Linked DNA regions of Homo sapiens: all the other regions are reported to be linked to region 2. Evidence: microRNA targets listed by miRTarBase, many of them from high-throughput screens and not tested one by one. Region 2 holds a microRNA gene; each other region holds the end of a gene's coding sequence. Distances are between the middles of the regions.
What was found. The annotated mature microRNA hsa-miR-4465 reads CUCAAGUAGUCUGACCAGGGGA and lies in region 2 at 4,018-4,039, shown strand. An mRNA with a match to its seed (bases 2 to 7 or 8) in the 3' UTR can be bound and repressed. Matches are read on the target gene's strand: a 7mer-m8 pairs with bases 2 to 8, a 7mer-A1 pairs with bases 2 to 7 and ends in A, and an 8mer does both.

Region 1: miRTarBase lists MINDY1 as a target of hsa-miR-4465. The part of its 3' UTR that is shown has no 7-base or 8-base seed match.
Region 3: the mRNA of ZNF664 is a reported target of hsa-miR-4465. Seed matches in the 3' UTR shown: 7mer-A1 at 1,683-1,689.
Region 4: miRTarBase lists KIAA0408 as a target of hsa-miR-4465. Seed matches in the 3' UTR shown: 7mer-m8 at 3,111-3,117 and 7mer-m8 at 2,775-2,781.

Annotation. Positions count from the first base shown.
Region 1 is chr1:150,991,471-150,998,596 of GRCh38, reverse strand. It overlaps MINDY1 (MINDY lysine 48 deubiquitinase 1), which reads left to right. Exons shown (of 10, transcript NM_001376665.1): 8 at 324-515; 9 at 818-973; 10 at 1,230-1,762. The coding sequence ends at 1,310. ANXA9 (annexin A9) reads right to left here. Exons shown (of 14, transcript NM_003568.3): 13 at 3,898-4,020; 14 at 2,963-3,337. The coding sequence ends at 3,275. Among named protein-coding and RNA genes, the nearest start is that of MINDY1, 12 kb to the left of the region's middle. RefSeq lists enhancers at 553-1,052, 2,402-2,621.
Region 2 is chr6:140,679,838-140,686,963 of GRCh38, forward strand. MIR4465 (microRNA 4465) reads left to right here and starts at 3,977; the gene lies at 3,977-4,046. The region is part of intron 4 of LOC105378027 (a long non-coding RNA gene); the gene reads left to right.
Region 3 is chr12:124,011,985-124,019,110 of GRCh38, forward strand. ZNF664 (zinc finger protein 664) reads left to right here. Exons shown (of 5, transcript NM_152437.3): 5 at 1-3,443. The coding sequence starts at 161. The coding sequence ends at 946. The region is part of intron 2 of ZNF664-RFLNA (ZNF664-RFLNA readthrough); the gene reads left to right. Among named protein-coding and RNA genes, the nearest start is that of ZNF664-RFLNA, 42 kb to the left of the region's middle.
Region 4 is chr6:127,438,328-127,445,439 of GRCh38, forward strand. It overlaps KIAA0408, which reads right to left. Exons shown (of 6, transcript NM_014702.5): 6 at 79-5,955. The coding sequence ends at 5,782. It overlaps SOGA3-KIAA0408 (SOGA3-KIAA0408 readthrough), which reads right to left. Exons shown (of 13, transcript NR_174482.1): 13 at 79-5,955. Among named protein-coding and RNA genes, the nearest start is that of KIAA0408, 18 kb to the right of the region's middle.

The sequences.
Region 1 (7,126 bases), not on the chromosome of region 2:
ATCATGAGGTCAGGAGATCGAGGCCATCCTGGCTAACACGGTGAAACCCCGTCTCTACTAAAAAAATACCAAACATTAGCCAGGCATGGTGGCGGGTGCCTGTAGTCCCAGCTACTTGGGAGGCTGAGGCAGGAGAATGGTGTGAACCTGGGAGGCAGAGCTTGCGGTGAGCAGAGATTGTGCCACTGCACTCCAGCCTGGATGACAGAGCGAGACTCCATCTCCAAGAAAAAAAAAGTCCACATGCTCATACCGAGATTTCTGGCAGTGAACTGCCTCCGTATCAACTGTCCCCCCAATGAGCTCTGTTCTTTTCTTTGTAGAGTCACTTATACCTACTGGTCACTGACCAGGGCTTTCTACAGGAGGAGCAAGTCGTATGGGAGAGCCTGCACAATGTGGATGGAGACAGCTGCTTTTGTGACTCTGACTTTCACCTGAGTCATTCCCTGGGCAAGGGGCCTGGAGCAGAAGGTGGGAGTGGCTCCCCAGAAACGCAGCTGCAGGTAGACCAGGTGTGTAGGGCACTTAGGAAAAGTGCAGAGAGCACATGTGCCTCAGAGAGCTTTTTACTGCATACATTTTAACTGCTAGAGGCCATGTGAACCCATGCCTCTCTCTCTGGGTTACCTCAGACCGTCTCCTCACTTGGTGTGTATTCTCTGGCACCACAGATAATGCATTTGGCTGTGTGTGCTGCTCTGTGGGGAGAAAGAGCTAGAGAATTTGAGGGATGTGGGAAAACTGATTTGGAAACCTTGCCTGAATAGCCACGGCTCTGGGCCTCAGCCCACTGCACAACTCTTGTTCTCCCCAGGACTACCTGATTGCTCTGTCCCTGCAGCAGCAACAGCCACGAGGCCCGCTGGGGCTTACCGACTTGGAGCTGGCCCAGCAGCTTCAGCAAGAGGAGTATCAACAGCAGCAGGCAGCGCAGCCAGTGCGGATGCGGACGCGGGTCCTGTCACTGCAGGTGGGCTGCTGCCTGGGCGCCCACACTCCCGGTTTCCACCTCATGCTTTGCCGGGTCCAGAACACCTGTTATTCCTGCACTGGTCTCTTCAAGGTTTCTTCTCTCAGAGTCCTTCCCCTGCCTGTCCCTCTCCCCTGGAGCCCCTTCCTGTCTTCCTCTCCCTACTCTCTGTCCCAATCCTGACACCCCTTCTTCTAGAATCTCTTCTTGTGCTCTTCCAAGGAAGTTCAGTGACCAATTGTTAAATCCGATACAGGGGAGAGGAGCCACATCTGGACGCCCAGCCGGGGAGCGTCGGCAGAGGCCGAAGCACGAGTCAGACTGCATTCTGCTGTAGCTCTGCCCCAGTGCCAGGCTGGCCTGCCCCTTCTTCCAGAGGCTATGGCTAGTTGGCTTGCTCCCCCGCCTCCACCCCTGAGATGTGCTGGATAACTTATTTATGGACTGTTGGGGATGAGAGCAGGCAACAAATGCCAAGGTCAGACTTGGTAATGTCCTTGACCTCACGTGCTGCTGCCTTCTCTGCCTCCCATCCAGGGCAACACTAGGATTGGTGGGTTTCTGGTTCTCAACTCCCGGTCCCTGAATAGTCACACGTATGTACAGACTGAGGCTCTGGGGTGAGGTCCCTATCCAGAATGCATCTCTTCTGCTTCCCATCCCTGCTGCCTGGATGCTCCTGATCACCTAGGCAGGCCTGTCTCCAGTTGTTTCAGAGCTTAATTTGGGTTTCTATCTCTTATTTGTAATGCCTTCCTGGGGTTTGGAAATAAAACTTCTGGCCGGGCACGGTGGCTCACTCCTGTAATCTCAACAATTTGAGAGGCCAAGGTGGGCGGATCACCTGAGGTTAGGAGTTCGAGACCAGCCTGCCCAAAAAGGTGAAACCCCGTCTCTACTAAAAATACAAGAAATTAGCTGGGCGTCATGGTGGGCGCCTGTAATCCCAGCTACTCGGGAGGCTGAGGCAGGAGAATCACTTGAACCTGGGAGGTGAAAGTTGCAGTGAGCCGAGATCGCACCATTGCACTCCAGCCTGGGCGACAAGAGCAAAACTGTCTAAAAAAAAAAAAAACCTTCTTTCCTGAGATCTGTTGTTTGCCTTACCCTGAAGCAATAGGGTTAAGTATTTGACCCAATTGAAGAATGCAAAAAGCGGGAGGTGGGTCAGAGGCAGGAAGGTGGTTACCTGTCATTTCTTTTTTTCTTTTTTTTTTTTTTTTGAGATGGAGCCTCGCTGTATTGCCCAGGCTGGAGTGCAGTGGTGCAATCTGAGCTCACTGCAACCTCCGCCTCCCGGATTCAAGCGATTCTCCTACCTCAGCCTCCTGAGTAGCTGGGACTACAGGCATGCGCCACTGCGCCCAGCTAATTTTTGTATTTTTAGTAGAGACGGTTTCGCCACTTTGGTCAGGCTAGTCTTGAATTCCTGACCTCAAGTAATCCGCCTGCCTTGGCCTCCCGAAGTGCTGGAATTACAGGCGTGAGCCACTGCGCCCAGCTACCTGTCATTTCTAATATAGCCTGCAGGGGGAACCAAAGCCTGACTTTTTGTTTTTGTTTCTGTTTTTGTTTTTGTTTTCTATGGGAAATAGTGCTCTCCTGGGAGGTGGGTTTCCAAATCTCTGCTTGGACACATGAATTTGAGGGTTGTGCTCTCCACTAACCCAAGAATTCCCATGCTGGGGAGGGTAGCTTGGCCCTCCGCTTGCTTCCCAGTTCATACAGATGGTCCTTTGCTCCCTCTATTTCTCACCTTGTTCTAATGCCTGTTTCTCAATTATTTTGCCTGAAGTTTCCTGGAGAATGAGGGTGAGGGGAGACCTGGAGTGGGAGACCTGGGTGTGGATTACTGTAGCACTAAGGCAAAACAGGATTCCTGCGGAATAGCCAAGTGCACATCAAAGGCACTTCCAACTCCAGTGCCTCTTCCCGGTCCATGTCCTGCTCCACCCAACCTTCAATCAGGGAACACAAACAACAGCGAAGTTTGCCAAAAGAATTCGAGTATCAGTGAGATGTTCTGGCCAGGGTACAGGAGGGATGAGTGAGGCAGAAACTATCAAAGAAAACTCATTTCCCCACACCCAAGAAGGAGCTGGATGACCCAGGTACAGATATAATTTTGAGATGGGAAAATTAAGGGATTTTAAAGAAACAGTTCCAGCCTCAACAAGAAGCTAGAGAATGTGGTGCTCAGTGAGGGGTTATCCTACTTGGAGGCCCAGCTGGTCTCCCAGGTTCAGCCAAACACGGAAATCTCAGATCCTCGGATGTCATGTGGGGTGGGGCAGGGAAGTCTCACATGTCTTCAGCCCTGCACAAGGCCAGGAGGGCTGACTGGCAATCCCCTTTCACTGCATCCTGCAGACAAGGGAATTCAGTGTTAGAAAGATCCACCACCACTATGGCCCAAGTGCTCTCTCCCCTCCTTTGGGCTGGTCCATCACAGTTCATCTGGGAGGGAAGGGTCCTCCCGGGAGCTCAGAGTCCTGCACTACATTAACCAAAGACTCCTGGGTTTTCTTTTTTAAGATGGAGTCTTGCCCTGTCACCCAGGTGGGAGTGCAGTGGCACGATCTTGGCTCACTGCAACCTCTGCCTTCTGGGTTCAAGCGACTCTCCTGCCTCAGCCTCCTGAGTAGCTGGGATTACAGGTGCACGCCACCATGCCTGGCTAATTTTTGTATTTTTAGTAGAGACGGGGTTTCACCATGTTGGTCAGGGTGGTCTTGAACTCCTGACCTCGTGATCCGCCCACCTCAGCCTCTCAAAGTGCTGGGATTACAGGCGTGAGCCACTGTGCCTGGCTAACTACTGGGTTTTCTATGGGGCAAGAATATGCTCAGCTGTGTGCAGGGAGTGAGGGTGGAGGTGAGGAGTGAAGGCCTGAGGCTCCAGGCTAAGAAGTAGCCAAGTTTCACCTGGAGAGAAGAGTAGAGGGACTTCCCAAATTTCTTCCTGAACTCAGCTCTGATACTCAGAAGGTCAGTCTCACATCGAGAGATAAGGATGCGAATCAGGACTTGGTAATTGGGCTCAGTTTCCTAGTAGGGGAAGAAAGAGATGGGGGGTAGTTAGTGAGAGTCTCACTGAGAGTAGGGGTTGAATGGCTTGGAGGGTTATTGTAGGAAGGGGAGGCAAGGTGGGAGTCAAGGGATAAGAGTGTACATTATACATTATCTCGGGACAAAAGTTATGTTTGTCCATCCTCAAGGAAGATGACACAGCAGGAAAGATCAGTCTCTGTGGGGGCAGCTTGAGTATTTATTTCTTTCCACATGTCTTTCCTGCCCCTACCATTAGCTTAGAGCTGTGTACCTCCAGAATTTGGTGGTGAGCAGCTCCAAAGATAGGTACACCAGGAAGGCTAGAAAAGATTTGGTGCATATAAAGACTGCCAGCATGAAAACCAGGAAAACTGCTTTTAACTTTCAAGTTAGTGAATATCCAAGGAGGATATACCTGCCCTATCCCTAAACTGAGCTGATGAGGCTCTGATAGGGTTCAAGGTTGTGTGACTTCTAGTTCTGATTCCAACCCAATAGGGCCATCTCACAGCCCCATCTCTGCATATTAGTTTCTCCGGTTGGACCCTTAGGCTGAAACATTGCTATCTTCCTCCTGTACATGCAGCAGGCCTGTTTTTTGGCTAAAGAAAGTAATGAAAGGTTCAGTTTAGAAATAACAGGCCAGGCACAGTGGCTCATGCCTGTAATCCCAGCACTTTGGGAGGATGAGGCGCGTGGATCATCTGAGGTAGGAGTTCGAGACCAGCCTGACCAAAATGGTGAAACCCCGTCTCTACTAAAAATACAAAAATAAGCCAGGCATGGTGGTGGGTGCCTGCAATCCCAGCTACTTGGAAGGCTGAGGCAGGAGAATTGCTTGAACCCAGGAGGCGGAGGTTGCAGTGAGCTGAGATCGCGCCACTGCACTCCAACCTGGGCAAGAAGAGCAAAACTCCGTCTCAAAAAAAAAAAAAAAAAAGAAAGAAAGAAAAAAGAAATAACAGGCCAGGTGTGGTGGCTCATGCCTGTAATCCCAGAATTTTGGGAGGCCAAGGCAAGCAGATCATTTATGGTCAGGAGTTCGAGACCAGCCTGGCCAACATGGTGAAACCCCCGTCTCTATTAAAACTACAAAAATTAGCCAGGTGTGGTGGTAGGCGCCTATAATCCCAGCTACTGAGGAGGGTGAGGTAGGAGAATTGCTTGAACCTGGGAGGCGGACGTTGCAGTAAGCTGAGATCACACCACTGCACTCCAGCCTGGGACAGAGCAAGACTCCGTCTCAAAAAAAAAGAAAAGAAAAGAAATAACACAGGTACAAGTCATCAAAATCCTGAATTATAATTGATTATACTAAGTAATGTGTTGTTATGAGAGATTTTTAAATAAAAACTTTTAATTGTAAAATTCCTGTGTTTTTTTTTTTCTGTGCACCAGTGTTGTCATCAATTCCTAATATCCTCATTTTCAGAGTTTCCTGAGTCACTTTACTCACAAGACTCTTCCCAGAACTGCCTACAACACATACTTAGGGCATCCCAATAGATCATAAACTCCTTTGACAAAACAAAAGAAAATGAAGTAAAACAGGATGCTCCAATTCATTTAGACTCATTACCTAATTGTCAGTGGACCTAATGTCTACTTCATTTTAACTTTTATGCATCATTAGTTTTGTATTGTCATAAAGATTGCCAATTGCTCCCCAGTATCCATTCTTCTCTTCTTCCAACGCTTGTTACTCTAAAGTTACAGAATTGGGCAAGAGTCACTCATTAACTGAATACTCTCATTGTTGTACAAGTATTCTTTTTTCTTGCTCTGTCACCCAGAGTGGAATGCAGTGGCGTGAATTCAGCTCACTGCAACCTCCGCCTCCCAGGTTCAAGCAAGTCTCCTGCCTCAGCCTCCCAAGCAGCTGGGACTATAGCATGTGCCAAACGCCCAGCTAATTTTTTTATTTTTAGTACAGGTGGGGTTTTACCATGTTGGCCAGGCTGGTCTCAAACTCCTGACCTCAAGTGATCTGCTCGCTTCAGCATATATATATATGGTTTGTTTGTTTAGATGGAGTCTCACTCTGTTACCCAGGCTGGGGTGCAGTGGTGCGATCTCAGGTCACTGTAACCTCTGCCTCCCAGGTTCAAGCAATTCTCCTATCTCAGCCTCCCAAGTAGCTGGAAATACAGGTGCACACCACCACACCTAGCTAATTTTGTATATTTAGTAGAGACGGGGTTTCACCATGTTGGTCAGTCTGGTCTCGAACTCCTGACCTCGGGTGATTCACCTGCCTTGGCCTCCCAAAGTGCTGGGATTACAGGCATGAGCCACCATGCCTGGCCTAATTATAATACTTAATCGTATACCTGGCATTGCATATGGCCCTAGGATCTTCACCAGGAACATTAATTTTTACTACAGATTGGTGGAAATTTGTCCTGAATCAGCCATTGCTGATTTTCTGAAGGTTGTTTTTCTGAATAAATATTCTTCACAATTTATGTTTTCATATATCTACATATCTCTCATAAAAGAATAATACAGGCTGGACACGGTGGCTCACGCCTGTAATCCCAGCACTTTGGAAGACTGAGGCTGGTGGATCACCTGAGGCCAGGAGTTTGAGACCAGCCTGGTCAACATGGTGAAACCCTGTCTCTACTAAAAATACAAAAATTAGCCGGGCGTGGTGGCGGGCGCCTGTAATCTCAGCTACTCAGGAGGCTGAGGCAGGAGAATTGCTGGAACCCAGGAGGCAGAGGTTGCAGTGAGCCAAGATCGCGCCATTGCACTCCAGCCTGGGTGACAGAGCAAGCCTCCATCTTAAAAAAGAAAAAAAAAAAAGTTTGCCACCAGCGTGGCCAACGTGGTGAAACCCTGTTTCTACTAAAAACAAAAAAATTAGCCGGATGTGGTGGCGGGCAACTATAGTTCCAGCTACTTGGGAGGGTGAGGCAGGAGAATTGCTTGAACCCAGGAGGTGGAGGTTGCAGTGAGCCAAGATCGTGCCACTGCACTCCAGCCTAGCGACAGAGTGAGACTCCATCTCAAAGGAAAAAAAAAGAAGAAGAAGAAGGCCGGGCACCTTGGCTCAGGCCTGTAATCCCAGCACTTTGGGAGGCTGAGGCGTGTGGATCAC
Region 2 (7,126 bases):
AGTCAAGAGTTTGAGACCATCCTGGCCAACATGGTGAAACCCCGGCTCTACTAAAAATACAAAAAGTAGCCGGGCGTGGTGGCGGGCGCCTGTAGTCCCAGCTACTCAGGAGGCTGAGGCAGGAGAATCGCTTGAACCCTGGAGGTGAAGGTTGCAGTGAACAGAGATTGCGCCACTGCACTCTGGCCTTGGTTACAGAGCAAGACTCTTTCTCAAGAAAAAAAAAAAAAAAAAAGTAAACCAAACTATATTTTACTCCTGCAGAAAATCCTTCAATAAAAGTATATGGCTCTCAAATTAAATACCTGGCACTTTCCCTTACACTCAAGGCCATCCAGTATAGCCTACTCTAAATTTCCTTTTGTCAAGTTTTCTACTCTGTAGTTCAACTGTTTAATTTATAAATATAAAGAATATTCTATACGTTGCCATCTCTGATTTTGTCCATGTTCCTTCTATGTGGAATTCCTTCATCTCATACTTATCTGTCAAAGTCCCATGCATACCTCAAACGGTCCTTTTATAAAGGCTTTATTTTTTCTAGGTCACAAAGCCATACATTCCCTATTTTTAAAATGTTTCTTTTTTTTTTTTGTATTTTTTATTGGCGACTTAACTATTCTCAACTTCTCCATATGTCAGGCATAAAATGAGACAGAAATTGAAAAGATAAATATGACAGAGTCATACACACATATGTGTCATCAGTATTAGATGTATTACTTCAGTATAAAACAGTCAGACATCATAGTTACACATAAAAGATTAGCTTATTTTGAAATAATAGTAGTATCAGTGAGGCCATGATACTCTCTTTTAGTCTAGGATTACATTTCTTTAAATCTTTCTCCTGAAAAATTTTAATACTTCTATTTATTTTTAACCTTCTCTCTCTGTCTCTCTCTCTATATATATCTAAATAAAATATATATATGTGTGTATGTGTGTGTCTGTGTATGTGTGTATATGTGTATATATAGGTGTATCTATATAGAGATACAGATATAATATCTAATAATACACACACAACGCTTCAGACATTTTATTATTATTATAGTGTCTAATATTACACACATATATCTCTCTATATAGATATATATTCTCTATATCTCTATAGATATAGAGAATATATATTCTCTATATATCTCTATAGATATAGAGAATATATATTCTCTATATATCTCTATAGATATAGAAAATATATATTCTCTATATATCTCTATAGATATAGAGAATATATATTCTCTACATCTATCTCTATAGATATAGAGAATATATATTCTCTACATCTATCTCTATAGATATAGAGAATATATATTCTCTACATCTATCTCTATAGATATAGAGAATATATATTCTCTACATCTATCTCTATAGATATAGAGAATATATATTCTCTACATCTATCTCTATAGATATAGAGAATATATATTCTCTACATCTATCTCTATAGATATAGAGAATATATATTCTCTACATCTATCTCTATAGATATAGAGATATATATTCTCTATATATATCTCTATATCTATAGAGATATATATTCTCTATATATATCTCTATATCTATAGAGATATATATTCTCTATATATATCTCTATATCTGTAGAGATATATATTCTCTATATATATCTCTATATCTGTAGAGATATATATTCTCTATATATATCTCTATATCTGTAGAGATATATATTCTCTATATCTCTCTATATCTGTAGAGATATATATTCTCTATATATCTCTCTATATCTGTAGAGATATATATTCTCTATATATCTCTCTATATCTGTAGAGATATATGTTCTCTATATATCTCTCTATATCTGTAGAGATATATGTTCTCTATATATCTCTCTATATCTGTAGAGATATATGTTCTCTATATATCTCTCTATATCTGTAGAGATATATGTTCTCTATATATCTCTCTATATCTGTAGAGATATATGTTCTCTACATATCTCTATATCTATAGAGATATATGTTCTCTACATATCTCTATATCTATAGAGATATATGTTCTCTACATAACTCTATATCTATAGAGATATATGTTCTCTACATATCTCTATATCTATAGAGATATATGTTCTCTACATATCTCTATATCTATAGAGATATATGTTCTCTACATATCTCTATATCTATAGAGATATATGTTCTCTACATATCTCTATATCTATAGAGATATATGTTCTCTACATATCTCTATAGATATAGAGATATATGTTCTCTACATATCTCTATAGATATAGAGATATATGTTCTCTACATATCTCTATAGATATAGAGATATATGTTCTCTACATATCTCTATAGATATAGAGATATATGTTCTCTACATATCTCTATAGATATAGAGATATATGTTCTCTACATATCTCTATAGATATAGAGATATATGTTCTCTACATATCTCTATAGATATAGAGATATATGTTCTCTACATATCTCTATAGATATAGAGATATATGTTCTCTACATATCTCTATAGATATAGAGCTATATGTTCTCTACATATCTCTATAGATATAGAGCTATATGTTCTCTACATATCTCTATAGATATAGAGCTATATGTTCTCTACATATCTCTATAGATATAGAGCTATATGTTCTCTACATATCTCTATAGATATAGAGCTATATGTTCTCTACATATCTCTATAGATATAGAGCTATATGTTCTCTACATATCTCTATAGATATAGAGCTATATGTTCTCTACATATCTCTATCGATATAGAGCTATATGTTCTCTACATATCTCTATCGATATAGAGCTATATGTTCTCTACATATCTCTATCGATATAGAGCTATATGTTCTCTACATATCTCTATCGATATAGAGCTATATGTTCTCTACATATCTCTATCGATATAGAGCTATATGTTCTCTACATATCTCTATCGATATAGAGCTATATGTTCTCTACATATCTCTATCGATATAGAGCTATATGTTCTCTACATATCTCTATCGATATAGAGATATATGTTCTCTACATATCTCTATCGATATAGAGATATATGTTCTCTACATATCTCTATCGATATAGAGATATATGTTCTCTACATATCTCTATCGATATAGAGATATATGTTCTCTACATATCTCTATCGATATAGAGATATATGTTCTCTACATATCTCTATCGATATAGAGATATATGTTCTCTACATATCTCTATCGATATAGAGATATATGTTCTCTACATATCTCTATCGATATAGAGATATATGTTCTCTACATATCTCTATCGATATAGAGATATATGTTCTCTACATATCTCTATCGATATAGAGATATATGTTCTCTACATATCTCTATCGATATAGAGATATATGTTCTCTACATATCTCTATCGATATAGAGATATATGTTCTCTACATATCTCTATAGATATAGAGATATATGTTCTCTATATATCTCTATAGATATATGTTATCTATATAAATATATATTCTCTCTATATATAATTACATACACACATATATATGTATGTAATATTAGACAAAATCTCTAATAGCAAGACAAACATGCAACCCTTCCGACATTTTATTGTTATTAGATATAGTGTCTAATATTACACATATGGCACAAGCCTAGAAGAAAGCAATAGTAATAGATCATTTATCTGTGTTAATTAAAGAGGTAAAATCGTTATCTAGCAAAATATGTTGAATTTAACAAACTGCATCCAGAAAAAATTCTCTAGTTTTACCATTTCTAGAAGAGGATGCAATTTTTGTTCTTTTAAGTTTTGTTCTATGTGTGTGGGGTTGGGAAGGGAATGGGGGTGAAGGCGTGGCTGAGAGAATAAAAGCCTTGAGAAAAGAGGGCTTGCCTTGCTCCTTATGCTGGAGAGATGTCCAGGAGGTACCACGGTTGGTAGTGCTGCCTACAAAGGATGTTACAGTTGAATTTGTCAAGTTCGTTTCTTAGACAGCCCTGCTCTGGTCTAGCCCAAGCTCTCATGTGTCCCCTGGCACGCTATTTGAGGTTTACTATGGAACCTCAAGTAGTCTGACCAGGGGACACATGAGAGCTTTTCATTGATTGCATTCCCACAAGCATATTTCCGTCACAAGTGGGGCATGTATCTCTTGTTTGGTTTGTTTTTAGTTTCAATAGCATATAACTTGCTTATTTCGCTTCTATGGATACTACCTGTGCCACTAAATAGGTCCCCTTAAACCTCTTGCAAAAAAGAAGGAAGTATTATTTACTCTACTTTTCTCTTTTAACCCTGAAATGAACATACACATTGTTAAAAATATTTATGGCATTTTATTGCTACTAATTATGAAAAAAAAAAGAAACAGCAGGAAACACAAAAGAGCAAATGTCGGTCTACATTTAAAGCAACCATAATGAGGACTCTCCCAGTGTTTTTTCAACTTCCTTAATCTATGGACCATTTTCAGCTAAAAAATAATTAATGATAAGTACACTTTAATTCTAAGTATCAATTTTTATAATATCAGCTAAAAACATACCAACAAAACTTATATATGTTTTGATATAATTGTATAAAATAAAATTTTTATGTAAAATAAGATATAAACTTATTTTACTTATAGCTCTGAAATCTATTAAATTTCATTTTCAAATAAAATACTAAAGCTTCCTACCAAATCACTAAAATTCAAATTAACAACATTAATTTAATATGCCATAGATTATAATTTTTATAAAAAAATACAATTACCAATGAAATTAAAACTATGAAGCAATACTTTCTCACTTTTGTCATTCTTATTTTGACCCTTATTTAAATTATAGTAGTTATCGTTGCCTTTATTTTTGCCTTTAAAAAACTCAAAATTTTAACTATCAGGGAATTATTTTGAAGATCCAATCAATTCAATCATATTCATAAAAGGCAAAAAAATTTTGGAGTATGAAGTCCTTTATTATATATTTAGTATCATCATTACTTGTTCAAAATTAAATCTATACAACACATCTGCCAGTGAAATAATTATGACACTGACTGCTACAGTACAGGTTCTGTTGAGTTCTTCAGAGTTGAAAGACCATGTGCTATTTGGTGACAATTTCCCCCCTACTATGCCTTATGTAAATGGCTGTAAAAGCTTTATTTGTACAGCTTGCCATGATGTAATTTGTCCTTTACTTGGGGCCAATGCAAATGCAAACTCCAGGACTTCAGTAAAGCAGTGGGACATGGGTATAAATTGGTCATACAAACAATCTTTGGTATGCTCATATATATGGGTGTAAGATTATCAAAATAAATGTAGAAAATTCAAAATTCTCTTAAAACTAAGAAGTCAATCTCCAGAAATCGTAAGAGTGATAATTCTTTCTTTTATATACACTCCTTGGCACTTTTTCATGTTCTAGTTCAATTAAGAGAAAAACAAAAAAGTTGTAAAATGCTAAGTCATTCAGGATTTCTCCAGATTCCAATATTATTTATGGCTCAAGGTAGATCCAAATAAAAATGAGAGTGTTACTGTTTTACACAGGAAATATCAACTTAGGTCATTTCCCAACAGTTACACAATCCAAAGTAAATTGAATGGATCTTAAATATTTAAAAAATATATTCATTTGAGGAAAAAAAATGAAGCTTAAGACTTAGAGGAGATCTGAATTTATTTGCTAAGTAGGTAGTGAACAATTCATTTGTTCATTAAAGTTTTCTGGAGTATTTATCCTATGACATGCACTGGAACAGTTTTACCATTGTGTAGTTACATCTACTTTGATTTCAGTTCTCTGGAAATGTTACTATAGATAATGACCAGATGGAGCCTTAAGTTATTTGTAAGCTCTATATTCTATAATTCTAATTACGCTGCATTGTTGTATTGCCTCTGTTTTATCCCTCTGATTTTCAATAAACTGTAAAGTCTTTGAATGTTATATGTATATTTATTTATATATATGCATACAATCACAACCAAAAGAAGTAAAAAACCACAAACCTCCATGAATTTTATTTTATTTTACTTAATTTTAATTCATTTTATTTTATTTTTGTAGAGATGAGGCCTCACTATATTGCCCAAGCTGGTCTCAAACTCCTGGCCTCAAGAGATCCTCCCACTTCAGCCTCCCAAAGTGCTAGGATTACAGGTGTGAGCCACCATTCCTGATCAAATTTTAGAGTAAATGATAGAATAATATTCACTCTATGAATACTCAATAAATGTTGTATTTAGTAAAGATGTATTAATGATAGAACATGAACTTTCCAATAAAAATTAATGCAGAGAAGAATGCTCATTTTTATTTTACTTATAATAAATTTAATACCGTTCCAACTTAGATTTCTTTCTAGCTAAAAGGATATCATAGTAATCCATCATAGTAGTCTTACAGATTAAAGAAAAGATTACTTGGGTAAAAATAAAAGCACCAAGATTTTTCTAAGGGATTTTTATGTACATTTTGCCTTATGTCATAATGTGGACAACCATCCCTACTTACATCAAAATTTAATTAGCAAATCATAGGTTTAATTATCATCTACTACCTGTGTTTCCACAATAATTCATTTCTGCTCAAACTATATCATGATATATCAGGCTATGATTTTGACTATTGCCAAAAAGTAAAGTTTGATATTGTATTGCATTCTACACTTTTCCCAGACAGAAATAAGAGGTAATGCATTATCAAACATGGTAAAAATCATCATGTTCTAAAGCTACAGATAAAGATGCATGTGATACAGGCATACAAGAGTAATCCCAGAATTAAGAACAAGGTAAAATAATAAAAATGTGGTAAAGTTAAAGAAAAAGAAAACTCTTATTAATATTATTTCTATCAGGTATTGCCTGCAATCAAGACCTTTTTAAACTAGCATTGGAAAGGGATGGCCACAGTTCATATCATCCTTTCCCAAACATATTTCAATCAGGCTCTTTGAGGTCTTTTGTTTCAAGGAAATTAGCTCTGATTTAATAGTTTGAGAAAAAAAACGACAACAGTATTCACTGTATCTTCAGGTTGGCTCCACACTTATGAAGCAAAGGATTGAAAAGTAAGATTTGAGTAGGATTTGACAATATTGAATGAAAACATTAAAAGCAAAAAAGAAAAAGCAAGACATTTATTCAGTTCTGACACATACTCAACTTTTAGATG
Region 3 (7,126 bases), not on the chromosome of region 2:
GCAGGGAAAAGCTTAGGCTGACCTTAAACTTACCTAATAGAGCAAGCCTGAGATAGACTGCCAAAATGGCCAAATAAGAGACTCTATGAAATAACAGTCTTGTAACTGTAGTAATCATAAGGAAATTTTCTCCTTGAAATCACGATACCAAATAGGAAAAATGATCTACAAGTGCCCCATGTGTAGGGAATTTTTCTCTGAGAGAGCAGATCTTTTTATGCATCAGAAAATTCACACAGCTGAGAAGCCCCATAAATGTGACAAGTGTGATAAGGGTTTCTTTCATATATCAGAACTTCATATTCATTGGAGAGACCATACAGGAGAGAAGGTCTATAAATGTGATGATTGTGGTAAGGATTTTAGCACTACAACAAAACTTAATAGACATAAGAAAATCCACACAGTGGAGAAGCCCTATAAATGTTACGAGTGTGGCAAAGCCTTCAATTGGAGCTCCCATCTTCAAATTCATATGAGAGTTCATACAGGTGAGAAACCGTATGTCTGTAGTGAGTGTGGAAGGGGCTTTAGTAATAGTTCAAACCTTTGCATGCATCAGAGAGTCCACACCGGAGAGAAGCCCTTTAAATGTGAAGAGTGTGGGAAGGCCTTCAGGCACACCTCCAGCCTCTGCATGCATCAAAGAGTCCACACAGGAGAGAAACCCTATAAATGTTATGAGTGTGGGAAGGCGTTCAGTCAGAGTTCGAGCCTCTGCATCCACCAGAGAGTCCACACTGGAGAGAAACCCTATAGATGTTGTGGATGTGGGAAGGCCTTCAGTCAGAGTTCGAGCCTGTGCATCCACCAGAGAGTCCACACAGGAGAGAAACCTTTCAAATGTGATGAGTGCGGAAAGGCCTTCAGTCAGAGTACGAGCCTCTGCATCCACCAGAGAGTCCACACAAAGGAGAGAAACCATCTCAAAATATCAGTTATATAAAACGTTTTGCTAAGAGTTTAAAATCTTAAAACCCATAAGTGCCACTAGGAAGGAAACCCTGTATATACCTACATTGACCCAAGAAATATTTACGCAATCCCTAGCAGAACATTGTTTCTGAGGAGGCATATGTGAGATTGATTTGTTGGTTCATGCCAAGTGTGTTCCACAGGTTGACTTTGAATGTGGACCTCTGAGCATCCACGCAGGATGGCTCTCAGGTCCCAGTCACAGACGTCGCTTCCTGGGATTCCAGCACGATGCCTCCATAGTTGAAAGACTACACAAAAAGCCACAATCATTGCCCGGCCTCCTGAGTCACCTTCTATCTATACTTTGCTTAAAAGCTATCCCAGATACTCCCCCTTGAGGAGCTCATGCCCTTCCTTCCTCTTTATTCGAGCATACTGGCAATGCATTGGAAAACAGACAGCTCCCACTAAGATCACGTTCTGGTATTTCTGAGGTTAACACTTGATTTAGCCCCTACATATCTTTCCATATATCCTATTATTTCTGAATATATGTCCTCAAAATCCCCATAAATATCCATCCCTTCCTAGATGGCATTAACTTTCATTTTAGATTTTAGGTGACTCATAATTCCCATTCACTTAGCCTATCAGAAAAGTCATTGGCAGACATATATGTCCTTGAACCTTTTTTATTTGTGTGGATTCTGCTCATCACTGTCTCTGTTAGACTTATTTTGTAGTGGCTGCATCACATATTTTTCACTTGAATTTTTTTGGAAATAGCTGAATGTAAATAGCAGGGAGGAAGAAGCAAGCAAAGTGAGAGCTTTTCTTCATCCAGAATTGCCCTCTGGGCTCCTTTGGTAACAGATGGAGCTCCTTCCTAGCTAGGGAGACCTTATGAGAAGTGGATGGTAGGAGGAGTCACTAATGTTTCAATCTCTATTTCTGTAATCTTGGGCAATAATGCATAGGAGTTCTTGATACCCCTTCATTGATTACTGTGTATCAGTTCTTTGTTAGGCATGAACGTCTTTATTAATCCATCATTCTTTTCTTCATTCAACAAATATGTATTGAACACCTCCTATATGCCAGGCACTGTGCTAGGTGCTGGGAATACCACTGATGAGACAGACAAGGTCCCTACTCTTGTGGAGTTTACTTCTGGTGGAGGAGACAGATGATAAGTAAACAAATAAATAATGTAGTTTGAGATAGTGATTAAGTGCTATGAAGAAAATAAACTAGGGTGATGATTTTAGTGGTGGGGTGGGGTGGGGGTGGGGTGACATTAGCTAGTGGTCAGGGAGGCCTTTCCGCGGTGGGATGTTGAGCTGAGGCCGGAGGAGAAGTAGCAGTCGCTGGCAGAGCACACAGGCTGCTCTGGGGGATGAGCTGGTGCGTTTAAGGAACAGGCCAGCACTGGCATTCGCAAGCAGTGGGGAAGGGGAGAGATGCCGAGGTGGTCAGTATCCTGACTTTCAGAGGCCTTTTTTTGTTTGTTTTAATTTTTGCTAGATTGATATTAAAAACTCATGTGGAGGAACTCAAGGAATGTTTAGAAGACCAAAAGTCCCCAATGACAGGAACAAAAGCAACCAATTTTTAACTTTCTCTTCTCATTCCTGTTTTCATTGATTTCCCACATGTAGTCCTTTTGCTCAGGAAGTCTTTGGGGAAATTAAGGATCTTTGAAGCTCTGAAATAGGTGATCAGGTTAGTGGTGTCTGTCAGCTGTCTAAGAGGTTGGAAAATGAACTACTCAAGATAGTCACGAAAATACTGAAAGTTTGATTTTTCTTTCCATATTTGAATTAATTTTTTCTGTTTGACTGGAAGGGGTTTTTGTATAACTAAAACCTCAGCGCATAAAGGAGATTTAAAAGGAGCACATGATTTAGTGGGTGGGCCATGAAACTAGAGATGGGATTTGGGGGTGAATTTGTCAATATCTGGATTTTAATCCAGACATCTCTGCTAACAAGCCTTTGGTAAGTCACTTCAGATACTTTTCCTCCTTTTTACAAAGAGAGGGCTGGCTTAGTTATTTGCCAAAGCCCCTTCCAGGCCTGAATTCCACAAGTACGATTTACTGTAGTGTCTTATCACTCTTTCATGTCACAATAGCGTGGAGCATTAGAGAAAAGCCTAGACTTTTAGTTGATAGCCAGTTGAAATATCATTGATAGAATTTTAGTTTTAGGAAAAATTGGTTTGATTTCTAGCTTTATTACTATTAGGTATGTGAGCTTGGGCAAATCGCTTAATCTTTGAGTCTAGTTTTCTCTCAAAATGAGAACATTAGGCTAAATGATTTCCGAGTTTCCAGCTAGTCCTAGAGTTCTATATTTCTACATAGTTGAATTATTTTATCATGCTGTTGCTGGGGAATATGACTAACCCTTTTGAAGCTACTAATTTTATGTCGAGCTTTAAAGTCCATAATTGTTATCTTCAGAAAATATTATTTGACCTACAGTATGTCCAAATCAATTTAATAAAATCGCTTTATAACAGGGTTCTGTGCTTGACATGTAGTTGTGTGAATTCAGTGGTCGTGTGTGGGAGTATGGGTATGGGTGTGTGGTGGAGAATTGGCTTGCACATTAAGCCCAGGGTGACCATGTAATTTATTGTCCAAACTGAGCACTTGAGAGTGAAGGGAGGGGGTGCTGTTGATACTCACATCTGGACAACAAGCCTCGAATGGGCCTTTCTCGGGCACACTAAGGTGTGAGGACACCTTGGTCTGAGGTCACAGCCACACAGGTAATAAATGACTCAAGTCAGGAATAATCCATCTGGAGAGAGCACAGTCCACTGAGAGGACTGCCTCAGCTCGGCTGTGGCTCTGTGTTCACGGCGAATACAGGCCCACAGCTCTTCTAAGAAAACACCAACCTCGATTTTCACACACAGTTTAATCTTAAAATGTTGGCAGCTAATTCCTTTTCCTTGGGTGATCCATTTTGGTGCTTTCTGTGATCTTCCTGGTGCCCCTTGGCAGTTCCTCCAAGCCCTGCCCTGGCCCCTGCTGACTGCAGCCCATGCCTGGGAAGGCGTGAAGTGCTGTCAGCTGAAGCAGAGGGGGCCCACGTTCTGTGCCGCAGTCAACAGTCTGACTGGCTGTGGCGTCTACCAGCTTTGAGAGACAAGTCTGCATTGCAATTCCACCATTGGGATGGGAGCAACCCAAACTAGCCCTTCTGATGGGGGTGGGGGGTGGGGGCAAGGGTAGGTCATCTGTGATGGGATTCACTCTTGGTGAATCTGCTAGGATTTAGAGTGTGAGCCAAGATAAGTCCAGAATGACTGCATGGTTTCTAACTTGGAAGCATGAATAAACGGCAGATTGCCTCTTGCAGATAGGAAGAACTCTTTGCATCAGAGTCCAACATTGAGATAGTCTACTGCGTGAGAATGTGGGCACAGCTCGTCAGGCCATCTCAGAAATTGAAGAGGGATTACTTTGTGTTGTGTGAGCATGGACATGATTCCTTCCAAGGGACCTTCTAGCTCTTGGCTCTGTTCTTAAAATTTTTGAATTATTTCTCAGTCTTTGTAATGTACTGATATTCTCAGAAATTTGAAAAACTAGGTGAATGGAAAGCAAATATCAGAAGCAGATGGAAAATATACTCAGTGGTAAAATCTAGGAAAAGATGAGAAAGGTTGATACTACTACAGGGCAAGAGCCATATATAAATAGCAAAGCTGAGTTAAGATCTATGGATTAGAGAGGAAGAGAGGAAAAATGAAGATGATAGAGCACTTCCTCTAACCATATTCATTTTCTTAATTTTTCTAAACCTCAAGTTTCTCATCTTTAAAATGGTTTTGAAAATATCTAATTCATGGAAATGTTGGGAGAAGTAAATAAACGTAAAGTGCCTAGCATTTAGTGCTATAACGAATTCCTATTCCCAGTTGCCTATTAAGGAAGAAAGGTCATGTTATTTGGATTCCTTTTTGTTTTGCTGAGCTCTGTGGTGGGTTTGGACATCTAAAATTGGGGTAGGACCTGGAGAGGGCTGAATTGCTCCACATGGTAAGAGAGAGAACTTGAATCTCCTGGGGTAGTTGGAGGTAAGAAAACAAAGGGTAGACTTGGAGTGGGAGAGAGGACCAGGGAACCAGTGGAGTAGGATGGTCTGAAGTTCTGAGCTCTTGTGTAGGAAAACTTCGTGACCACAAAGTCTTTCCCTAAAGTTAGGGGTGTTTGGCATGGTGGATTTCTTATGGAAACTGGTGGAAGGGCTGAGTGCTGTATCCAGGGTGAAATGGGGCAACACGTAAGTACCACACATAAATATAGGAGCCAGAAGAGGGTGCCCCTGAGAACAAGCTCCAAGGAATATGCAGAATATGCAGAAATCTTCAGGGTAGCTAAAAGCTGCTACAGGCCATGGAATTAATGGAGTTTTGAGTCAAGTTTACCCAAACCCCTAAGGGGCAGGGAGGCCTGGGATATCTTTATTTCCACTCTCAATGTACATGAAGTAGAATAACTTTATAATCATAAGTAAGTTGAAACTTAAGAATTTTTTTTATCATTCTCATTTTAACATATTACAAAACACATGAACAAATCCAGAGATCCCAAGGCTGTGTGTGTGTTTATGCCAGTAAGAACTTGTCATAAATATCGGTGGAAAATGACACTTTATACCAAAGCAATTTTATTGCTCAGATTTAGGCATATGTAAATAAACTGCATTTCTAGAGTAAAGTAGCACATACAGATTTTGTGTATTTTTAGGCGGATGTATGCATTTTATAGACTCTGTACCTTCCTAAATACTGTGTCTAAATATGGCTTCGCTGAGAGACCGACTTTCCCTCCCCCTCTTAATTCTTTGCTGGCCCTGATCCAGGTCTTCTCTGCATCATGAATTATGGTGGGGGTGTTGTATTTACAGAATTTTAAAACCTAAGACCTGCAGACGGCTTTTGGGGAGGTCTAGAACCTTTTTAAGTTATGTGCAGAATTTTGTGTACCTGTAGGTCTATGCATTTTTCTAGGAAAGGGGGCTTTCCTTATGTTTGTGACTCTAAGAGATAAAGAACACTGGCTGGCATATGGTTACTCGTTGTTTGGGGATCTTGGGAGGCAAAAGGGGTGCCTAAGAGTTCCAGTTAGTGGAATGGATAGGAAATGATGGGTATAATAAACGGAGGAAAAAACACAACGCTGTGTTGTGAGGAAAGAGGGAAAAGGACGTTGGCATAAAATGGAAGGATACATGTGCATGTGTTGTTATGCTGGGCCCAGGAGGTAGGCTGTGTGGCAGTTTCGATGTCATACGCTTAAGACAACAGTTCTGCGAACAGTGTATTAAAAGAATATAGGTGAGGACAATTGAGTATTCAGAGGGGACTGGCTGGACGTGGACGGAATTGGCTACCTGAATGGAAAACACTAGATCTCAACTGAATCTGTCTTGGTTACAGAGGAGGCAGTTCTTGCTGTAAAATGGGTGAGGGCCCCAGTACTGGTGTGGGTTGTATTTAGGTTCTCAAATAGACCTATTCATATTGCTCAATGCCATGTTCTCTCATGTCTAATTTTTATGTCCTACCTCACTTGCCTGGGATCTCTGACTGTTTAAGTCAGTCCTCTTTAGTCTTCATCCTGTCTGTCCCCAAAATGTCTTTTTTTTTTTTTTTTTTTTTTACCCCTGATACTCTTCCATCCTTGTGTGCCCCCCGCTCCCCTTTCTGAGATAAGGTCAAGACCCACAGGGACTTAGTCTCAAGGGTAAGTCCTGTTTCTACAGTCTGTGGAGGATGACGGGAGAGTCTGGTAGAGCAGCAAGCCCTACTTCCTGGAGCTGTTGTTGCCACATTGTTATAGTTGAAACAGGCAGTGTCTGGAAAGAACTGAATCCTCTGTGTTTTGCTTGCCTCACTTGATCCAGTAAACATTAGGAGAAGAAATTAAAAAAACAGGAAAGGATAAGATGGCAGGAGTAAGTTGAAGCATATTGTTAATCATAGTAAATGTGAACTGGTTAAATTCAGCTACTTAGGGACATTTTCAAGTTGATTTGTAAATGACGTCACAAACGTGTATATGATGGTTATGGGAGACCACCTAAAATAAAGGGGTGACCCAAAAGGCTGACAGTGAAGGGGTTGAAAAAGATCAGGAAATGCTAAAAGAAAGCAACTGGTGGTAGTATTGTCAGTCCGTTTATGAAAG
Region 4 (7,112 bases), 13 Mb from region 2:
CAAATATATAATTCAGGTTAGACAATTTGGTGTTGAGACTGGTCAGCATTATGTAAGAAAAAATCTGCAGATCCCAAATAGCTGGATTAAATTTGTTTAATGATTCTTATAAAATTGCCATGAGTAAGTAATTGAAAAATAAAGCTTCAAAAATAAACTGGCAGCAGAGCACAATTGCAGTCACATTGCTTAACAACAGGGATATGATCTGAGAAACGTGTTCTCAGGTGATTTCATCACTGAGCGAACATCACAGAGTGTAATTATATAAATCTAGATGGTAGGCTTGAAAGTATGATCTATTGCTCCTAGGCTACAAACCTGTACAGCATGTTACTGTACTGAATACTAAAGGCAATTGTAACACAATGATATCTGTATATGTAAACATAGAAAAAGTATAGCAAAAATATTGTATTATAATCTTATCATCATATATGTGCATTGAACTGGTTTGTGCAGCATGTGACTGTAATTTTGAGTGAGGTTTATATTGGAAATTACTGTATGCTTGCTATGGTTTGAATACGTACCTCCAAAATTCATGTTGAAACTTAATCTTCAATATTAAGAGGTAGGGCCTTTAGGAGGTGATTGGATTATGAAGGCTTCTCTTTCATGAATGGGATTTAAGGCCCTTATAAAAGAAGCATCACATAGCATTCAGCTGCTTCTTGCTATTCTGCTGTTTCTCCATTGTTGGCCCCTTCTGCCATATAAAGACACAGCAATAAGGCACCACCTTGAAAGCACACAGCAGCCCTCACCAGACACCGAATCTGCTTGCAGCTTGATCTTGGACTTCCCAGCCTCCAGAACTGTAGAGAAATAAATTTCTGTTCTTTATAAATAACCCAGTCTCAAGTGTGTTTTGTTATAGCAGCACAAATGAGCCAAGATAATACTTCAAGCAAACTGCTTTTATTTATTCTGGAGTATATGTAACTTATGAAGTGTGAAACTATTCTGATTCTTTTGAAGATTGAGGTCAGGATTCAGTTGACGCTAGAGATGAATACTGATTGGCTATTTATTGGTTTTACTTCAACATCATGTCCTACATACAAAATTTATATAAAATCAGAGCATAGGCATTAAAAGTGGAAATATTTTGTTAAAGCCTTGTTCACAACTTCTTGAATTTCATAAAACCATTTAAGTCAGGGGTGATGACTTTTGATGATCATTGAAAGAGGGAATCAACAGAAACTCCCAATGAGAGCAAGATAAACAATTTGTGTCATGTATAAAATGAACAAAACAAAAATGAAAAAGAGCTGTTCAATCTTTTTTTTTTTTTGTCTTCTCTTCCTTGGGAAAAGAAGGCTGGAAAAATAGCCTGAGCTAGGAGTCTGAAGAGCCATCTATTTAACTATCATCTTCAAAAATATTTATTCTAAATATTATCTTGACTACTTAATTTTTCCTTCTTACTTAGAAATCACAATGCCTGCCTTGTAGTTTGTTGTAAGAAGCAGACAAGTCGTGGAATATGAATTTGCTTTGCAAACAATAAGGTCATAGATGCACATGGGACATTTATACAGGAGAGCAGATCATGAGTGAGCCCAGGCTTGGATTCTGTCCCTGCAATCTTGGCAGCCATGCAGACCTCTTTGAATCTCAGGTTTCCCACCTCTAAATGAACTTGTTCTGAGTTCATAGGTCCCTCAAAATCTAAACCGTTACCTACTTTCTAGATTTCTCCATAGCTTCATATAAACAGATTTTTTTCCTAAGAATTTGTTAATTTAACCTATTGGATTAATACTATCATTGAAATGTGTATCAGATTTTAAGTATCATGATTTTATTCCCAATAAAACAAAAAATTATTTTCTATGATGAATATGCATACAATAAAAATGACGAGAAATCATTTTTGGTACTTGTCTGAAGAACTCATCCCCAATTTTTGCCTTTTTTGCTTTGCAAAGCACATTTTCTTGTAGGAACATATTTTCAGGGTGAGATGAACAAGTCATAGTTATAAGTTCTTTTTTTTTTTTTTTTTTGAGACAGAGTCTCACTCTGTCACCCAGGCTGGAGTGCAGTGGCGCGATCTCTGCTCACTGCAAGCTCTGCCTCCCGGGTTCATGCCATTCTCCTGCCTCAGCCTCCCGAGCAGCTGGGACTACAGGTGACCACCACAATGCCTGGCTAATTTTTTGTATTTTTAGCAGAGAGGGGGTTTCACCGTGATGAAACCAGGATGGTCTCCATCTCCTGACCTCGTGATCCCCCCACCTTGGCCTCCCAAAGTGCTGGGATTACAGGCAAGAGCCACCGCGCCCACCAGTTCTAAGTTCCGATACATGTACTTGCTACTTAAGAAAAACATGCCGAATTTAAAGCAAATAGTACTGTAATAAAAAAATCTGATTTTCCTGAAAATGGTTTAATTTTATGATGTAAATGCAAATCTTAGAAGTAAAAACTTTTTTCAAAGAAGACTTTTATCAGACTCAATTAGCAGTTAAATGGGTAGAGAGAGGATGTCAGTGTACGAGAAGCCATATGGAGTTTTGGGTGGCCAGGAGCAGGAAGTCAGGCAGGTTTGGCTTCAGTTGTACTACCTAGAGATATTTTGGAAGAAGCTAGAGTGAACTGTGTACATATATGAGTTTAGATTTCATAAGACACTTAGCTTTACTGGAGTTCACTGCAGAAAATGAGGGAAAGAAAAATGTTCTCGATGTATACAAATGCCACAGACAGTTGTTTTTACACCTACTTTATTTGATAGCTTCTAATGGCTGAAGGAGATTTCAATATCAAGTAGTTGTTTGTCACAAATGTGCCTAAAAATAACTTTAAAGATCTTTGTAGGGAAGCAGAAACTCTTAAGTCCAGATGTTTTCTCAGGATAACTAAACCTGGTAAAATCACCTATATAGAAGTAAATAATATTTTATGGCCACATCTGCAAAATGAAATATGATCATCTTCATTGTCGATATAAAAACAAATGAAAGTTATGGGTAATTTTTGATAAAATGAATTATACAAAGCATCATTTATATTTTTATATTTGGCTTTGGGACATAAGGCAATATGGAGAACTTATGTGACACTGACACAAACACACACACACACACACACACACAAACTCAAGTACTCCTCTCTGCCTCATCCTTATTCCTTTCTGAGATCAGCCCATAATATCAGTAATCCTCTGCTGAACTAAAATAATATTTTTGCTCCAAAAGTCTGCTAGGGAAAACATCTATTAATATATGTTTTTAAATCAAATATTTCCAGAAATGCTTACAAGTCCCTTTAAATCTAGCAATGATAGCATAATAAAGGGCATATTCTAGGGAAGAAAATGCCCACCTAAAGTAGAAATTTACCAGTTAAAAATCACAAAACATCAAAAACTATTTTCAAGGATTATTTCCATTTACCTAATAGGTTTTTCCATTTAAAAGTTATAAAATATTTAAAAAGAGAAAACAGAACATTCAAATAACCTTAGTTTTTCAGTTTTACAATCAAGGAGTTGGACTAGATGCTATTTTTTTTTTCTCAGCTCTAACTATAATTTTAGTCAACATAAGAAGACGTTAAAATGTGTCCCACTGGTTCATTCAACTGTTAATAGAAAAAAGTGGCTTAAAATTGTGAAGTCTGAAAGTATAGCCATTCTAATTTACAGATAACAAAGGCAAGTCCTAGGAAGAAAAGTGACCACCCAAGGGCATCCATCCATTCAGAGATCAAGCAATGTCACTGTTTTCAAATCTGCCTGATCATCAATATTTTGCTTTGTTTTGTTTTGTTTTATTAATGGTTCTGGAGTCCCAGTCCCTACCCCTGGAAATTTTGCTTTAGTAATATGGGGTGAGATCAGAAATTTCATTTTTTAAAGAGATCCTCAATATTCTAAGGAACCACAGATCATACCAGACTACTTGGGATACACTGGTGGAGAGGAACAGATAGGTTGCACAGTCCTTGGGCAGGCTCTCCATTGTCACACAACAGCATTTTCCTAACAGGTCCGTCATTTTATGACCCAGGGTTCCTCTTTCCTGGTGTTTTCTCCCCTCTAGCTGGAAAGCATATTATGAGAGTGATATTACTTGGTGTCTAGTTTACTTTTCTTTGATAGCTTCCTGTGGAAAAGGATCTTCCTGAAGGAAATAAGAATTAAAAGAGTAGATGTATAGACCTTAGTTACCATCCAATACAAATCACTCTAGACCTTTAATTCCACTTAACTACCGAAACTGTCCTTACAGTAAAGTATGAATCTAGACATCACCATGCTACAGTCTTGAGCCTTTCAAGGAAGTCTGCAATTTGAAAATTATTTTCTTTACCTCAGGTCATGGGGTACAATGAAGTGAATTTCTCTAAATGGTTCAAATACATCATAAGGAGATGGCTCTTGGAATACATTTGGCATAAGAATTTCTTAGTAAAAGAAAAGCTTAAATAGAGTTAATATCTAATAACATAACATAATTGGTTTTATATAGTGACAGTAGAGAGCAAAGTTCCTTCTAAAATCTTCCATTTAGAATTCCAAGCCCCTCGACATTCATATTTCTGTCAGTTTTCAATATAGATTTTATGTGTTCACTGTATGCAAACTGTAGCCAAAATACACATTTCTATTCCTGATGCTACTGTGGATGTCAAGGTTTAGTTTAAGCCTTTTTTCGGTAGCAAACTGTGAGAAGTATAATTTCAGCTTTCAAAGAAATATTATTCCTGATCTTCCTTGTTAGTAAAAAAGTAACTTAGTTTGTTATCTATTAATTTTAAGGAAAAGATTAGAAAAAGGAAAAAAATAATAAATGACTTACCTCTAAGTATGTATGACTCCATGTTAAAGCAGCTAAACTAAAAGCTTACCACAACTTAAAGAAAAACTAAAATTCAACATCATTCAGTTTCTTTTTGCATCCCATTTAGGAAATGTTTGTTGCTGAGGCTGACAAAATAAATTCATCATTTAATCATGTCATTTATAATGCAGTCTCATGATACTGTCTCTGAGGATCAAATATTCAGTTAAAGCCATACTAGACTACCAAATAATATATAAAACATTTATGAACATTTTATGCTTGCTTTACAAGGCTGATCTATTAAACTTGTGACATTTTTATTTAAAAAGAATAAACAAGAATATCAATGGTATTATTTTATCCTTATATGGGTTAAGAAATTATTTATGAGTTGTCTTTAGAAATCTACCAATGTTAGATGTGTGCATAATTCTTCTTTTTCATTGTAGCTGGGGGCCAAGGAAGTGGTCAATTAATATTTGTACTGCAAATGCCTTAAGTGGATACCTATTAAAAGGTATACAAAATATAAACAGTACTGCATATTTTCAAAACTTTTAAATAAACACAAAGAATATATAGGTATACATGTTATAATTTCAAAGTCAACACTAGCACATAAGTTTTTCATATCTAAATACATACTAGGATACTTCCTATTTCAACACATGCACCTACAAACACATGGCCATGCACATAACCTTACTTTCTGCCACTTGCAACAAAGAATATACAATATTGTACATTGTTTCAACTTATATTGTATTGGAAAACTAATGAGGATGGCATTAAAAAATTCTGATCTAAGAAATCAAAATGCAGGAAGATAATTATTCCTTAGATTAAAAACACTGAAGACTGATGGAAAGTTAAGATTCAAATTGCTTGTCGGAAGAGAACAGGTCCGCCTGTAAACACTCAGAATGCTCTGTTTGACAAGTGGGACTAGAACTTCTGTAATATAGCAATCCAGGCCAAAGACTTAAACCATCAATGCTTCGGATCGCAGAGAAATGGTATAGTTGTGGGTAGTTCTCCGCAAGGCAGGGGGTGCAGATGGAGATCTGGATGCCCATCTGGAGGGGAGACGACGATTTGCTGGTCTAGCAGGTCGGGAAAATCCTTTTCCATGTGAGGCGTTCACTGACATGGATTCCTAGGACACAAGTAAAAACATTCCTCTCACTCTCTGGGTACCAACAATAGGCTTAATATATGATGGGTCTCAACTATAAGATTAGTCCGTTAGTAAATTTACAAGAAAGAAAAAGCATTGAAAACTAAAGAAGGTAGTTGTCTAATATTTGTGGTTTTGAATGTTTTAAAGCAATTCAATTTTAATATGGAATATGATATTTGATAATTTTGTACCTTTCCTTACACTGACAAATTTTAATACAGTTAATCTCTCTGTAGAACTAATGATGAGCTCAGGATTTAAAATTTCAAGTTAAATAACTTGAATATCATGGAAATACAGATGTTTCTTAGTGCGCTGTTAGTATGTTACAGTGTTATTTAAAAATAAAAAGATAATTTATAGAAGAAACTGTTCATTTATGTCAAATTCATTGACACTTTTAGAGGTGATACGCAAAAGGCACACAAACCAAATGATTAATCTGATGCTTTTTTTTTTCACTATCACTGGCACTATCTATCAAAACCTTAAAATTATCATTAAAATACTTTTAAATACATCTTCATTCTAATTACTAATACAAAATTGCTATCTCTTGGGCATGTTCTGATGAGAGAAAACCTTTTCCTTCACTTTTCTTCTCTTTCTTTTATTTTCTTCCTTCTTTCCTTTTATTTTAATGGAAAAAAAGCATTCCTTGGTCCTTAAAATTAAAACAAAAGTACAAAGCTTCCATGACACACTTTATACACTTGGTTCTTATTGACCCTTCTTAGACCCCACAAAGCCTGTGCTCTTTCATCTGAGCTAGGCAGTGAGGATGGCCTCCTATTTCTACTATTTTAGCCATGGTCTGACAGTAAACTGCAGTTTCTTTTTCTTTTTGGAGACTTATTTTCTAGATTTGTTCCCACAGGAGGAAGAACAAAAAACAAAAACAAAAACTGCTCCTGAGGATCTATAGTAGAGAACCTCCCTGCCAAACTCCCAATGAATGCAAAAAGGGAAATCACTCAGTATTATTTCTTGTTAGTTAACAAGAATTTTGTTTGGTTATTGTACAGATATATCTATTTCCCATCTTTAGCTATAGGACCTTGTGGGCATTGATGGGCTCAATTAAAAAGCAGAGAAATACAAAAGCAGGATACTTTCTGCACCTTATAAAAACA